4 linked regions of the Homo sapiens genome follow. The protein of the gene in region 3 interacts with the protein of the main gene of each other region in a pairwise test. Each region holds a gene or a part of one and is shown on either strand. Other genes may lie near its edges.

What was found. The genes of interacting proteins can lie anywhere in the genome.
Region 1: the proteins of ABHD16A (region 3) and PERP interact in binary tests that used the Homo sapiens proteins (3 or more experiments, as listed by UniProt).
Region 2: the proteins of ABHD16A (region 3) and POLE interact in binary tests that used the Homo sapiens proteins (3 or more experiments, as listed by UniProt).
Region 4: the proteins of ABHD16A (region 3) and GORAB interact in binary tests that used the Homo sapiens proteins (3 or more experiments, as listed by UniProt).

What each region holds. Positions count from the first base shown.
Region 1 is NC_000006.12:138,097,420-138,101,220, forward strand, and holds part of PERP (p53 apoptosis effector related to PMP-22), read right to left. Parts: intron 1-3,801.
Region 2 is NC_000012.12:132,625,803-132,628,643, forward strand, and holds part of POLE (DNA polymerase epsilon catalytic subunit A), read right to left. Parts: intron 516-2,841; coding exon 315-515; intron 1-314. UniProt on the Homo sapiens protein: Catalytic component of the DNA polymerase epsilon complex. Participates in chromosomal DNA replication.
Region 3 is NC_000006.12:31,686,183-31,690,221, forward strand, and holds the end of ABHD16A (phosphatidylserine lipase ABHD16A), read right to left. Parts: intron 3,946-4,039; coding exon 3,896-3,945; intron 3,785-3,895; exon of another isoform or gene 3,523-3,784; coding exon 3,399-3,522; intron 2,938-3,398; coding exon 2,833-2,937; intron 2,605-2,832; coding exon 2,541-2,604; intron 2,124-2,540; coding exon 2,067-2,123; intron 1,922-2,066; coding exon 1,859-1,921; intron 1,719-1,858; coding exon 1,642-1,718; intron 1,559-1,641; coding exon 1,460-1,558; intron 1,363-1,459; coding exon 1,316-1,362; intron 1,114-1,315; coding exon 1,030-1,113; 3' UTR 773-1,029; downstream 1-772. UniProt on the Homo sapiens protein: Phosphatidylserine (PS) lipase that mediates the hydrolysis of phosphatidylserine to generate lysophosphatidylserine (LPS). LPS constitutes a class of signaling lipids that regulates immunological and neurological processes.
Region 4 is NC_000001.11:170,545,365-170,549,165, forward strand, and holds part of GORAB (RAB6-interacting golgin), read left to right. Parts: exon of another isoform or gene 1-427; intron 428-3,801.

The sequences.
Region 1 (3,801 bases), about 110 Mb from region 3:
GAGCTCACTGAATCCTCACAACAACTTTTTTTTCCCAGGTTATTTTTTATTTTTATATATATTTTTTAATTTCAGTAGTTTTTGGGGTACAAGTGGTTTTTGGTTACATGGCTGAATTGTATGATGGTGAAGACTTTAGTGCACCCATTACCTGAGTAGTGTAAATCTCCTAATAACTTCTTAAGGTACACACTGCTATTGTTTCTATTTTAGAAATGAAGGATATACTTAGAGTTCAAATAACCTGCCCATAGCCACACAGCTGGTAAATGGTTTAGACAGAGTTTGATTTCAGCCTGTTTGAATCCAAAACATGACTTTTTTAAAGATATAATTTACACACTATAAAGTTCGCCCTTTTAAAGTGTATAATTCAGTGGTTTTTACTATATTCACAGTGTTGTACAACCATCTCCACTAACAATCCAGAATATTTTTATCGCCCCGCAAAGAAACCCCGTGCCCATTAGCAGTCACCCTCCATCCCCTCTTCCTCCAGCTTCTGGCAACCACAAATCTACTTTCTGTCTCTATACCTTTGCCGATTTTGGACTTTTCATATAAATGGAATATCATACACTATGTGGCCTTTTGTGACTGGCTTCTTTCACTGAGTATGGTATGATGCGGTTTGTCATGTTATAGCATCAATCAATACTTCATTCTTTTTGTGGCTGATTAATATTCTATGGTATGGATAGACTTTAGTCTATCCGTTCATTTGCTCTTGGAAGATCGTGCACACTTAACCTATTAGTCTTCACTACATTTGAAAAGGAGAGTCATGAGTCACCTGTCCTCCATCTTGGCGTTACTCTTACTCTGTGACGCAGCACAGCTGACAGTATTTGTCCTCACTTAATTCTAGGTTGTTTGACTGGTCAAGGTGAAACAAAGATGGGGCTGGCAGAAAGAGCAAGGGTGTTGGAGCTGCTGGACCTCGTTTGGACCCTGCCTCTGCCCCTGTTGGCCATACTCCAGTCTTTGCATCTGTTAGCCAAGGCTAAAAACACCTATTCCAAGATGATGGAAGCACACTCCTGTAGTATCAGTGACTAACTCCCCAGCCCTCACTACTCAAAATGTTCCTCCTGTGTCCCTGTGACTTTTCTCTAGTACCTCATGTTTTTATTTTCTTCTACATTCGCAAGGTTCTGCACCATCCCTTAAAGATTGTTTCTCAATCATCTGATGCATTTTTCTCTTTTCATCTGTTAGAGACAAACCTGAGCTAAGGCTCCACATGCCCTTCTCCAACTCCCATGCACCTTCCAGGTCTTCCTCTAGATTCATGAGTGACTGGGGCACAATAGATTATTAAGGAGATAAAACATTTTTCTGTCCTAGAAACACTGTTTTCACACAAATTAGGTCAGGATGGGGCTGAGACTGTACCTGATTTGGCCTAGTTTTATACGGACAATTTTTATTACTTTCCTCCAAATCTTCTAGCTCTTCCTGTCAGACCACTGAGAGACTTGAGAGATAAGGTTAAAATGGGAATGTTTTATTTTAAAATAGAAAGGAATAAAGCCAAAATGTTAAAACTTAGTAAGTCTCTTTTTCTCACTTTTGCCTTGTTCTTCAAGTAAGATAACTTTTAAGAGAAGAGGGACCATGCTTTGGAAAGAACATTAATTAATCAGACCTCTCAAAGTACAGCCCATAGACCACAAAGGCAAAATAAGCAGTAGTGCTCCTTAAAATGATACTGATTCCTGTGCCTCCCTCCAGACCTATGGAATCAGAGCTTGAGTGGTAGCACCCAAGAATCTGCATGTTATTAGTGTTTCTTATATCCATAAAGTTTGAGAACAACTTAGATGATTAAAGTCCTTATTAAAACAGATGCAGCACTACCAAAAAGGATCATATAACTTTAAGTATGTGACCCATTGTCAATTACAGTCTCATTTCTTTAGTTTTTTTTAAATGGCCACTGGTAATTGTTAAGTTCAATTAAGTCCAATAGTTAAATCAAATAAGCAAAAACTTTTTTTTAATTTTATGAGTTCAGAAGTTTGAAACTGCAATGAAAGGAAACATATCTATATATGCATGTAAAAGAACGCAAACATAATAAAAATCATTGCATAGGAGAATGTGAGTTTTCCATAAAAACAGGCAAAACCTCCTAACAAGGAATCTATTTCAATAACTAAACTTTTACAATCACAGATAAAGGTTTGAAAAATCTAGCCAAATAAATTATGTATGATATTTCTGTAAAGAGTAATATTAACAATTTTACCTATTTGAGGAAAATTAACATAAAAAGATTATTACTATTATACTTCCTCTAACATTATAGCTGAAGTATAATTTATGCTTAGTTTCAAGTGCTTGGAAGGAATTAAACCAAAGAAATGGTAAGCCAATTCACCTAACCTAAAGCCAAGACGTGAACATAAATATAGGAATATTTTAAGAACTTTTCCCATGCTATCTTAACACGACTCAGTTCATGTCTTGCTTATTTAAAGTGCTGAGTCTAAAGAAAATCAAAATGGAAAATTAAACCACATTTTGTCTTGAGAAAGACTGCCTTGGAAATAGAACGTGTAAAACCTGCTCCTTGCATCACAGAAACACCCACATTGAATCACTTAACTATCATTTAAGACAGAAAACTTGGCACAGTTCTAAAGATCCTGACTGATGAATAACAGACGTCTTCAAGTAAAGCAATCTGCCTTCTCATGTCAGTGACCATTTAGACCATACCAGGTCTGAGCAGGGTCCTCCCAGCCCACCGTTCTGTCTGAGAAGGAGCCTTTCAGATGTAGAGACTTAGGACATGGGTATTCTCGATGACCTACATTTTGAAAAGTTAATAACTTTATGCCCTAGGTAGCTGTGGTCTCACTTAGTTACCTAGAATGAGCCTACTTTCTACAAATTGACCAAACCCTTTAGGAGCTGTTTATATTTTTATATTATATCATGGTCTAAATTCTACCCTATTTCCCGACCCCACTGGAAAACATCAATTTTTAGAACTTGTCCTAAAGCTACATCTTTCATGATTCAATAGATGGTCCTCAGTTTTTCAAAGGCAGACTGTCCATCTTTATCTAATACGAACACAAGTTTGTCTTTCATTACTATTTTATATACCAGATTTGTGTGTGTGTGTGTGTGTGTGTGTGTGTGTGTAAGTGTATGGGAGAGAGTAGAAAGGATTCTTATTGTCAACTCTCATTCTCTGGATTGAGACCACAAAAGCATTCAGTACTCCAGGTAAATAGATGCTGCGTTTCTGTGTAGGAAAGTTTTTGTTTGTTTGTTTTATTTTCTTAAGGGAAGACCAATTTGGTGTCCTAACTTTATTTTCTAAGTACCATTTAGAAAAGCTCATGTAATCAAAGAAACCAGCAGCATTATAAATCCAATTTAAGTGATATTCATTAGATGAACAACAGCTTCTCAAAGTTTCCTAGCCCTCGCAAAGATTCAACATTAAATCAAGAACACGGAAACCATTTAACGATCACCAACAAAACTGAGTTTTTCCTAGGACGTGTTTTTAAGGTTTCTGTATGACAAAGCATGCTGTATTTTTTTCCAGAAATTACATACAAAAACGCAAAATGTTACAAGGCTAGTAAGATCAACTAATAAGAGCAAAAAAGTAAAAATAAATAAATACTTTAAATGTCAAGCTAGAAATAGGCCAGCCGCGGTGGCTCAAGCCTGTAAGCCCAGCACTTTAGGAGGCCGAGAAAGGTCACGTGAGGTCGGGAGTTCGAGACCAGCCTGGCCAACATGGTGAAATCCCCATCTCTACTAAAAATACAAAAA
Region 2 (2,841 bases), on a different chromosome or scaffold from region 3:
CCCAGCCTCCAGACCACAGTGCCATGGGCAGGATCTCAGGAGAGGAAGGGGCTGTGAGAAGCGCCTGGTGACGGGCGAGTCTCCTGAGTGCAGCTGCACGCACTCTGGCCTCCCACCTGCACTTGAGCCCTTCCTAGGACAACATTCCGAACATGGTGTGGGGAGGCCTGGGAAGGGGCCTGTTGCCAATCCATGTGAGTCAGAGGGGCAGCAGGTGTGACCCACAGAGCTGGAGCTGCAGAAGCCCTCAAGACACCGCAGTGCCCTCGGATGTTCTGCTCCACAGTGAAGGGCCCGCTGGAGCTCAGCCGCACCTCTGAGAAGGAAGAGTCTTTACACAGGTCCAGGTCGCGGCAGAAGTTACAGCTGCGGCAGATGACCTCAGGAAGCACGTAGGAGCGGCAGGGGTCTCGGAACTGGGCCTCCTCGGAGAACTCGCCGACATCCACCAGGCGAAGCAGGTCTCGGTTCAGCTTATTCACCTGGTTTGTGATGTTGGTGTCCAGGGACAGCACCTGCAGAGACCACAGCCCACATCGGGAAGGAGCTCCCGGGGCCTCCCTGCTGCTCTGTCTGGACCAGAACCCTCTGGACCTTAGGCTACAGTTTCCTGGTGTCCTTTCCTCCCTTCCTTAGTCCCTTTAGACGCCTCAGCTGACTTCTCTACATTAGCAGTTTTCCATCGGTGAGGACAGGCTTCCCTGGGGAATTTACTAAACATTTAAGGAAGAAATGCTGCTGATTCTACACAGTATCTTTCAAAACACTGAAGAGAGAGAGCACTCAACCCATTCTATGAGGCCAGCATCCCCTGATACTAGAACCAAAGACCGTACTAAGAAACTACAGACCAATAACAGCCTGAGCACAGACACAAAAATGCGCAACGAGATATTAGCAAATTGAATGCAAGATCGAAAAAAAGAATACATAATCCAGAAAGAGACTCACATAGATAAGGTTACTAAGTTATGGAAAAAGGTACAAAGATGATTCGATAGAAAAAGAATAGTCTTTTCAACAAATGGTTCTTGAATACAAGCGTATCTTGGAGATATGGCAAGTTCGGTTTCAAACCACCTCAATGGACTAACATCACAATAAAGCAAATCACACAAATTATTTGGTTTCTCAGTGCATATAAAAGTTACATGATTTTTGGCTCACGCTTGTTTTCTCAGTACATATAAAAGTTACGTGATTTGTGGTGGCTCACGCCTGTAATCCCAGCACTTTGGTAGGCCAAGGCAGGTGGATGGCCTGAGGTCAGGAGTTCAAGACCATCCTGGCCAACACAGTGAAACCCCATTTCTATTAAAAATACAAAAATTGGCTGGGCATGGTGGCGGGTGCACCTGTGATCCCAGCTACCTGGGAGGCTGAAGCAGGGAATCGCTTGAACCCAGGAGGTGGAGGTTGCAGTTAGCCAAGATTGCACCACTGCACTCCAGCCTGAGTGACAGAGTGAGACTCCATCTCAAAAAAAAAAAAAGCTATGTGATTTTTTTTATTTTGGGACAGGATTTCACTCTGTCACCCAGAATGGACTGCAGTGGCACAATCATGGCTCACTGCAGCATTGACCTCTTGGGGCTCAATTGATCCTTCTACCTCAGCCTTCCCAGTAGCTGGGACGACAGGCATGCGCCACCATGCCCAGGTAATGTTTGTAATCGTTGTAAAGATGGGTTTTGCCATGTTGCCCAGGCTGGTCTTGAACTGCTGGGCTCAAACAGTCAACCCACCCTGACCTCCCAAAGTGCTGGGATTACAGGTGTGAGTCACTCTACCCAGACAAAACTTAGGTTTACCCTATACTGTAGTCTATTAAGTGCATAACAGCATTATGTCTAAAAAACAATGTATGTACCTTAATTTTAAAATGTTTTATTGCTCAGAAATATTAACGATCATCTGAGCCTTCAGTGAGTCGCAATCGTTTTGCTGGTGGAGGGTCTTGCCTCAATGTAAACGGCTGCTGACTGATCAGGGTGGTATTGCTGAGAGTTGGGGTGGCTGTGGCAATTTCTTAAAACAAGACAACAATGAAGTTTGCTGCATCAACTGACTCTTCCTTCCATGAAAGACTCTGTAGCATGTGATGCTGTTTGATAACATTTCACCCACAGTAGAACTTCTTTCAAAATTGGAGTCGGTCCTCTCAAATTCTGCTGCTGCTTTGGCAACTAAGTTTATGGAATATTCTCAATCCTTTGTCATTTCCACAATGTTCACTTTCATCTCAAGAAACTACTTTTTGGCCAGGTGCGGTGGCTCACGCCTGTAATCCCAGCACTTTGGGAGGCCGAGGTGGGCAGATCACAAGGTCAGGAGATCGAGACCATCCTGGCTAACATGGTGAAACCCTGTCTCTACTAAAAATACGAAAATTAGCCAGGTGTGGTGGCGCTTGCCTGTAGTCCCAGCTACTCGGGAGGCTGAGGCAGGAGAATGGCGTGAACCTGGGAGGGAGCTTGCAGTGAGCCAAGATCGCGCCACTGCACTCCAGCCTGGGCGAGAGTGCGAGACTCCATCTTAAAAAAAAAACTACTTTTTTGGGCTGGGCGTGGTGGCTTGTGCCTGTAATCCCAGCACTTTGGGAGGCCAAGGCGGGTGGATCACCTGAGGTCAGGAGTTTGAGACCAGCCTGACCAATATGGTGAAACTCTGTCTCTATTAAAAATACAAAAATTAGCTGAGCATTGTGGCGGGCACCTGTAATCCCAGCTACTTGGGAGGCTGATGTAGGAAAATCACTTGAACCCAGGAGGCGGAGGTTGCAGCGAGCCAAGACCGCACCACTGTATTCCAGCCTGGGCGACAGAGCAAGGAGGCTCCATC
Region 3 (4,039 bases):
AAAAAAAACTGCCAGGCAACAAACCAATGGGTGGAAGAGGGATTTATTCACTGTGTTCCACAAGGTCCAAAGTTAGAGATAGATGGCAGTTATAGGGAACCAATTTCCTCAGGTACAACCTAAGCATCTTCTCCTAACAGAGCCGTCCAAAAGGCAAAGTATGGCTCTGAGAAGACATGAGTCCTTGGCACCTGGCCCTCCGTCCCTGGCAGGGCCTGTGTTTGTTGAACTGCAAAAAGGCTGTGAGGACAGAGACTTGATGACATGGCAAGGTGGGTGTGCAGGGTTTGCTGCATAAGACGTGGGGAGCAGGCCCTTCCTCACTCTTCACCAAGATAACAAGAGGTGAGCAATGAAAATTGGGGGTACTGCTAGTAACACCATGCAGGTTGAACCTGGAAACCAGCAGAAGCACTGGGTAGGTGAAATCGGATCCTAGAAAGCTCATGAGCCGTAAGCAGGAGGGGGCAACCATGGGCTCCTGGGGTGGTTGTATGCAGGAAGAACTGAAGAAGGAGGCGGGAGGGGCCAGGGAGGCTGCACAGTTGTGATAACAGTAGGCACATCAGGGACCGGGGAGGTTTGGGGACCTGCTGCCTGAGGAAAGCTCAGGTTAGGGGCTGAAGGCCTAGGGGGACACAGAGATGGGAAGGGTTAGATTAGCTAGATTGTCTAGAGTTAGGGTTTCCCAAAGCCCAGCTCTTTGGGGCCTCTGCTCTCCCCACTACCTGCCCCTGGCTCCCTGGACACTTGAGAAGTTATACAATTAGCCTGATAGTAGAAAAAATACCTTTTTATTAATTATTAGGAATAATCCATTCATGTAATGCAGGATGTATGTTGGAGAAGGTTAAGTACAGCCACATGAATGAGGGGAAACGTGCAAGAGGAACAGTGGTGAGAAGGGGGATGGTCCCCCACTTTCCACAAACTATAAACAGCAACATGAACACAGAGAATCACAAATAAGAGGGTCTTTCCTCATGTCTCCTCTCACCCCATTCTTCCATAATGAGTCCCAGTTGGTCCCTAGAGGTGCCAGGGCATCTGGAAGTTCTGGGCTGGGAGTGGGGTGCAGTGAGTGGCCTCAAAGTTGTGCAGATGCTTCCGAGCCTGAGGAAAGGAGGTGGGACAGGTGGGGTACAGAGCACTGTTGGGAGGGGCAGCCACTGGACTCCCTCCCCACCCTCCACTTCCGCATCCACCACCCACTCTACAAAAGCTGCCACTTCCAATGCTTATAGGGTATCCCCAGTCCCCCTATGTGAGCCCTGGCCATTCAAGAACCCTTCCCACTTCCCACTCCTTAGCTCACCAGAAACAAAGCCAGCTGCCGCCGTCCATCTGCACTCATGTCCTCCCCTGCAGAGAGGAGGCGCTCAAAATAGGCCACACATCTGGGTATTCATCCCCTTCCTAGGCCCTTCCCACCCTCTCTCCTGCCCCAGGAGCTCCTTACCCACGCTCCAGGGGAAGTCGGGCCCGTGTTCTGCCTGGTAGGAGCGGAGGACAGACAGACACCAGTCCTCTTCCACCTCCCATCGGCTATAAATTGAGGCTGGTCAGGGAGAGAGATGACAGCCAGTCAGCAACCTGACCTTGCTGGGCCCCCGCCCCAAGCCTCACTGGATCCCTTCTCACCTTCCTCCAGCTGTGAGGAGGCCTCCAACCACTGCCTCACCACTCGAAGACCCTCCTCTGCCATCACCCGGGGATACCTACGGAGGAAGTGCCAGGACAGGTCAGGGCTGATTTTTTTTCATTCACCATCCCTGAACCTTCCTCCCTCCTTCCCTGTGCTGGTATCAGTATCTGTGTGTGTACACTGCCCCCAGCGCGCACACACCCTGGCTCTCACCGATGCTGCAGGAGCTTCAGCAGGAGGTCATTGCCTCGGTTGGACATGATGTCCTCAGGAACCCTGGGGGTGAGAAGAATGTACCCTGGAGGGGCTGGAGGTTAGGAGGAAGGGTCTAGATACCCAGGTTTCTGGTGGGCAGAGGTAGAAGGGACAAGTTCCTGGCCATCTCTGGGGTTCCTGAGGGCCGAGATTCCCACGCACTCACGTGGTGGTGATGATCTCATCCTTGGTTCTCCGGATCAGCAGTACAGGACCCTGGTATCTTCAGAGAACAGAGCAGTGGGAAGGGAGAGCTCAGAGGGAGACGGGTGACAACTGGCCCACCCCTATCCCTGCACTGGTAGCATTCTTACCCTCCCCTTGCTATAGCACAGCCCTTGACCTAGCCCTTCACTCAGGGGTGAGAGGGGATTATTTAAGGGGCATGGTTCAGTCTGGCCCTGCTGGGAGACCCCTGCCGTGCCAGGCCTTAACCCTTTGGTTGCCAGATCCTGAGGTGGTCCAGAGTCCCAGGGGACCTGGGAGGGGTTAGGCCAGTTGAGGTGGTGGCAGGGTCACTCAGGATGTGAGCCAGTGGCCTTTTACCAACTTGCACTTTAGTACTAGTTTCAGGGTTTGAGCGCCCAGCAGAGCTGTATGGGGGGCAGGTGTTCAATGCCGGACGCTGGCCGGCCCTCACCTGCACAGCTGCTCCGCGTTGTTTAGATTGAGATGCTGCCTCACGGTCCTGGTCACCAGGCCCCCTAGAGTGGGATAAAGGTGAAGGGATGGCAGAGACAAAGCCCTTGCCCAACATAAAGGTCCTCACTATTCACGGAGAAAGAAAACTGAGGCCCCCAGACAAAGGAGTCCTCCTGCTTCCAACAATGGGGCGACTTACTCCCCACCCAAGAAAAGGGAGCCATCTCAGAACAGTTCCCAGTTCCAGCCCACCCCTTCCCAGGAAGGGCAGGCCTGGGAGCTGCACTCACTCCAGCTGTCTGGCATGACCTTCAAGGCCAAGGGCACCAGGTCATCAAAGGAGGCATCCAGGATCATGGCACTAACATCTGGGTAGGACATGGCTGCCCACGTGGCTGGTACCAGGGCAGGGAAGAAGAGTAAGAACTGAGAAAGGCTCCTTTCTCCCCACCACCCATGCTCTCATCCCACTGACCCTATAGGCCAACCCCATTCCCCCTATGTTATCCCTTGTTTTTTTCTTAACCTACTTCACTTGGTTAGGGAACTATCTGGAGAGGATGGGGATAGAACACTGGAGATAGTGCACTGAAGATAATGGGCAGGAAACATTCACTTTCCCTGATCTCCCCACCCAGGACCTGGGTCTGCTTTTCCTTTTAATGACTGGGCACAAGAGGGGAAGGAAAGGTGAAGTGTATGCAAATAGGATAGCTTCTTCCAGGCCCACTCAGAGATTCTACTTCCTCTCTCTTCTTCCTTGAGCCTCCACCCCACCCCATTTCCCCACCTCTCCCGGGTGGGGCTGGGTGGTCATGAATGTGTCTACAGTGGGGGATGGGAGGGAGGCTGGTACCAGTGAAGCCGCCGATGGACCAGGCGTAGATGATGATGTCCTGGGGCTGGAAGCCTAGGCGGTGGATGGCAAACTGGACCACCACATCCATGGCATTAGCCTCATTCTGCGGGAATGGCACCCCCTGCAGGAGAAAGGGCAAAGTCAGGAGTGTGTCAGCACCAAAGGCCAGCTCACCTGTCCCTCCCAACGTGGACCCCTCCTGCAGCCACCTATGACAGGCAGAGAAGGTGTAGAAGGAAGGGATGGTAGGAGAGGTTGTTCTCTCCAGAAGACGGATGTGTACAATGAGATCTACCTCCTCCTCTCCTGCTAGCCCCGCACTGTGGGGATGGGGGCATGGCTCCCAATGCTGCCTTCACAACCTCCTAGACCCCAGCCCTCAGGTGAGTGGGACGCCTTCAAGAAATCCACAGCCCCTCTCCTCCCTCCAATGGCTGACCAGAGGGAAACAGACATAATTCAGGAAAAGGAAGGGATTCCTGAGATGGTCTCACCGTGCTTCCAGCAAAGCCTGGATGATTCCAGCCCAGGACTGAATATCCAGCTGTAACACAGGGGGAGGAGGGACTGAGACCTTGTGGCCCACAGCCCTTTCTCCATCCCTGGGGGAAGGAAGAGCAGAAGTACCCCCCAGCTTA
Region 4 (3,801 bases), on a different chromosome or scaffold from region 3:
AAATATTTTCTCTTTTTTTTTCCTTTCAATTATACTCTGTATGAAATGGTTTAATATATGTTTCCTTGGTTTCAACCATTGGCATTTTTTAAAAGAGAAAAAATACCATGGAGTATTTTTAAAATGAACTAACACATGTAATGAATTACATGGACTTTGCAGACAGATAAAAGGGCAAAAAAATATGTCCAATTTCAGGGTTTTCAGCCCTTTCAACATTGCTTTAATCATCCTGGTTTGTCTTTTTTCACAAGGGAATGCTGTGTTAATGACTCAGTTTTCTATCTTACTCTGTTACACTAGAAATGAATCAGAATGCCTCATTAGGCCAGGGTAAACCACAACATCAGAATGTTTATATAACAATTTATTAAAGCGGAAATGCTTGATTGTGGTTTTTAATAAACTGTTGAGTGTTTAAGAAAGAGTCTTGTGGTTGTCCTTGTGACTTTTGTAATTGTTGTTGGACCATATGCTATTAGACTTAGAGTTGTCTTTATTAATTAACTACTTAAAAGAATGCCATCAGTAGCTGATAACCAGAGGTTCCAGGTTTCCATTAATAAGGTCATTAAGGGAGATAACAGAGATTTTATTTAAGATTAAACTAAGCCTTGATTTGTAGCACATTTTATTCTCTGTAACATAAGTTTGCCAGAGGAACATTTTTATGCCTTTGTAGCCTTTTATATGAATAATTCATATTATAAGGTAGAAGTACTAGGTACCTCAGTTGAAATTTGAGGCCGGGCACGGTGGCTCACGCCTGTAATCTCAGCATTTTGGGAGGCCAAGGCAGGTGGATCACGAGGTCAGGAGTTCAAGACCATCCTGGCTAACACGGTGAAACTTCATCTGTACTAAAAATACAAAAAATTAGCTGGGCGTGGTGGTGGGCGCCTATAGTCCCAGCTACTCAGGAGGCTGAAGCAGGAGAATGGCGTGAACCTGGGAGGCGGATCTTGCAGTGAGCCAAGATTGCGCCACTGCACTCCAGCCTGGGCAACAGAGCGAGACTCCGTCTCAAAAAAAAAAAAGAAAGAAAAGTAATTTGATTTTAATTTTGTCCTAGTGGAAACTGGAGAAAGACGCTTTTTCATATTCAGTATTATATAAGAAATGTCATAGTTTTAGCCTTCTAAGAACCACAACAAAGAAGGTGGGATTACTAAAGGAAAAAACATCCTATAGTCTATAAGTATCCTAAATGAAATTTTAGTAAATTTTTAAATCTTTAGTAAGTTACAGATGACAGTTTCTCATGGTACTAATATTGATGTAGTTGAATGTAAGTAGATGTTGTGTGCCACTATTTTTGTTTTTATTTTTAGGTTTTTGAGACGGAGTATCACTCTTATTGCCCAGGCTGGAGTGCAGTGGTGCGATTTTGGCTCACTGCAACCTCCGCCTCCCAGATTCAAGCGATCCTCCTGCCTCAGCCTCCTGAGTAGCCCAACTATAGGTGCCCACCACCACACCTGGCTAATTTTTTGTATTTTTAATAGAGATGGGGTTTCACCATGTTGGCCAGGCTGGTCTCCAACTCTTGACCTCAGGTGATCCGCCTGCCTCAGCCTCCCAAAGTTCTGGGATTACAGGTGTGAGCCACCACGCCTGGCCATGTGCTGCTATTTTCAAAAGCCGAAGCTCTTGCGTTGAGTCAAAGGGAAACAAAGACTTTGGTGACTAGAACCGTAGTGTGTCTTGTTCATGCGTAAGATTAAGGTATTATTTTCTAAACTTGCATTTGTGGTTATTGAGAAATTACAGATCGGTAAAATAATATTATGGTCCAGATTTGAAGTGAAAGATAATCCCTAGGACAGTCAGTTTTTATGGGAGATTTCCTTGTTTTTTCTTTTTTTAATAAAAATGATATCTTAGTTCTATAGTATTTGGTACAGTGCTATGTCCACAAAAGGTTCTTGGATAGTGAATAGGCCAGAACTTGCTTTAAAATTGGCTTCTGTAGAGCAGTGTTTGGATAGACACCTCTGAGAAGACTAGCACTTTGAGCCAATTTGAGAGAGTTGCTGCTGCTGCTGCTGCTACTGCTGCTACTGCTGCTACTGCTGCTACTGCTGCTACTGCTACTACTGCTACTGTTCACCACTGGGATTACAATGTTGCCATATGCTGTGCAGACCAGTTTATAAAATCCAGAGTGGCTGCATGTAGAACATTTTTTTAAATCACTATTGACCATCTAGGTTTCATAGACACCCTCATACATGCAAACATACACCCACAGACGAATATTTTTAAATCACTTTATGAGTAATTTTTAAAAGTAAGATTAAAAGGGATTGTGTAAAACAACTTTAAAATTTTAATAAGAATGTAAGCATGGTAACCATCTTTGTATCAAGTAATGTTTGACTCACAAACATAAAAAGCTGAGAGAGTATAGTTACATCCTTGTAGCAACACAAGATAGTCTAGATACTTGTAAAATATTGGGTGTATGTTCTCCCTGCTGAAATGATTAACTCTATGATAAAATCATTTTTCCTTTCTATGCTTAGAAATATATTTTTTACTGACTGATTCTTAAGTTTGAGAAAATTCACCTAGGATATGTTTTGCTGAAGACTCATCTGAGATTTCACATATGATCGATTTTATCATCTAGACTCTAGAATGTGTCTCTGCATTTGTATTAGTTTCCTAAGACTACCATAAGAAGTAATCCAAACTGGGTGACTTAAAACAACAGAAATTACTTCTCTTTCATTTCTGGAGGCCACATATCCAAAATCAAGGTGTCAGATTTGTGATTTCTTCAGAGACTCTAGGTATCCATTTCTTGCCTCTTCCAGCTTCTGGTGGCTGTGGGCATCCCTTGGCTTGTGGCCACGCCATGCCATTCTGTGCCTCCATAGTTATGTTGCTTTTTCTTCTCTCTCTAAACTTCCTCTGCCTTTCTCTTAAAAAGATGCATGTGATTACACTTAGGGTCCAGCTGGATAATCTGGAATAAACTCCTCAAAACCTTTATCTTAATCACATCTTTTTCCATATAAGATAATTTTCACTCATTTGTCATAGAAAGTAATATTCACAGGTCCCAGGAATTAGAAAGTGAATATCTTTGGGAGGCCATTTTTTAGCCTACCACACCATTCATCTTTTGATTTCTTTAACAGTGGCAAGATGTCTTCCTCTGTCAGTTGTCTCCACTTTGCAAATACTGGATAGGCAGAAAATGAAAACTAAAAACAGGTTACAAAAATGGTGTTTTCAGTCTTCTTTTATACTTTCTGGAGGTGACATGATACTTTGTACAGCACAGTAAAGAAGCTCAACAATGATAAGTTATTGCATCATCCTTTCAGATCATTTTCTTATTTTAATTTCTTTTTATTACAAAAGGGAATAATTGATAAGTAATGATGAAATAATTCCTAGGATGATGAAATGGCAAAATGTTTCAAGATACAGGAAATATAAAAATACTGCAATAATCCTATAATATATCTTAGATTTATGAAAGGGTTCTTTGGACCTCTCTGGTAATTGCAAAATATAATTTATTTTATTCTGTTTTTTTAAATAAGTAAATTTTCTCATTATTTGAAAGACTTAAGAAAAGATAAAAATTATGAAATGCTAATTTATACAAATAGTGAGAACTGCTCAGAAAAGGAACTGAAAAACTAAAAGTGGACCCGTGGAACCCAGTGGTATACTGAGGGTTAATGGTTGAGTTTTTAAACATTTCAGGGGATACCAAAACAAAGAGACAATTTCTAGAATCCTTTAAAAATAACATTCATTAATTCATTCCATCCCCCTTTAAAA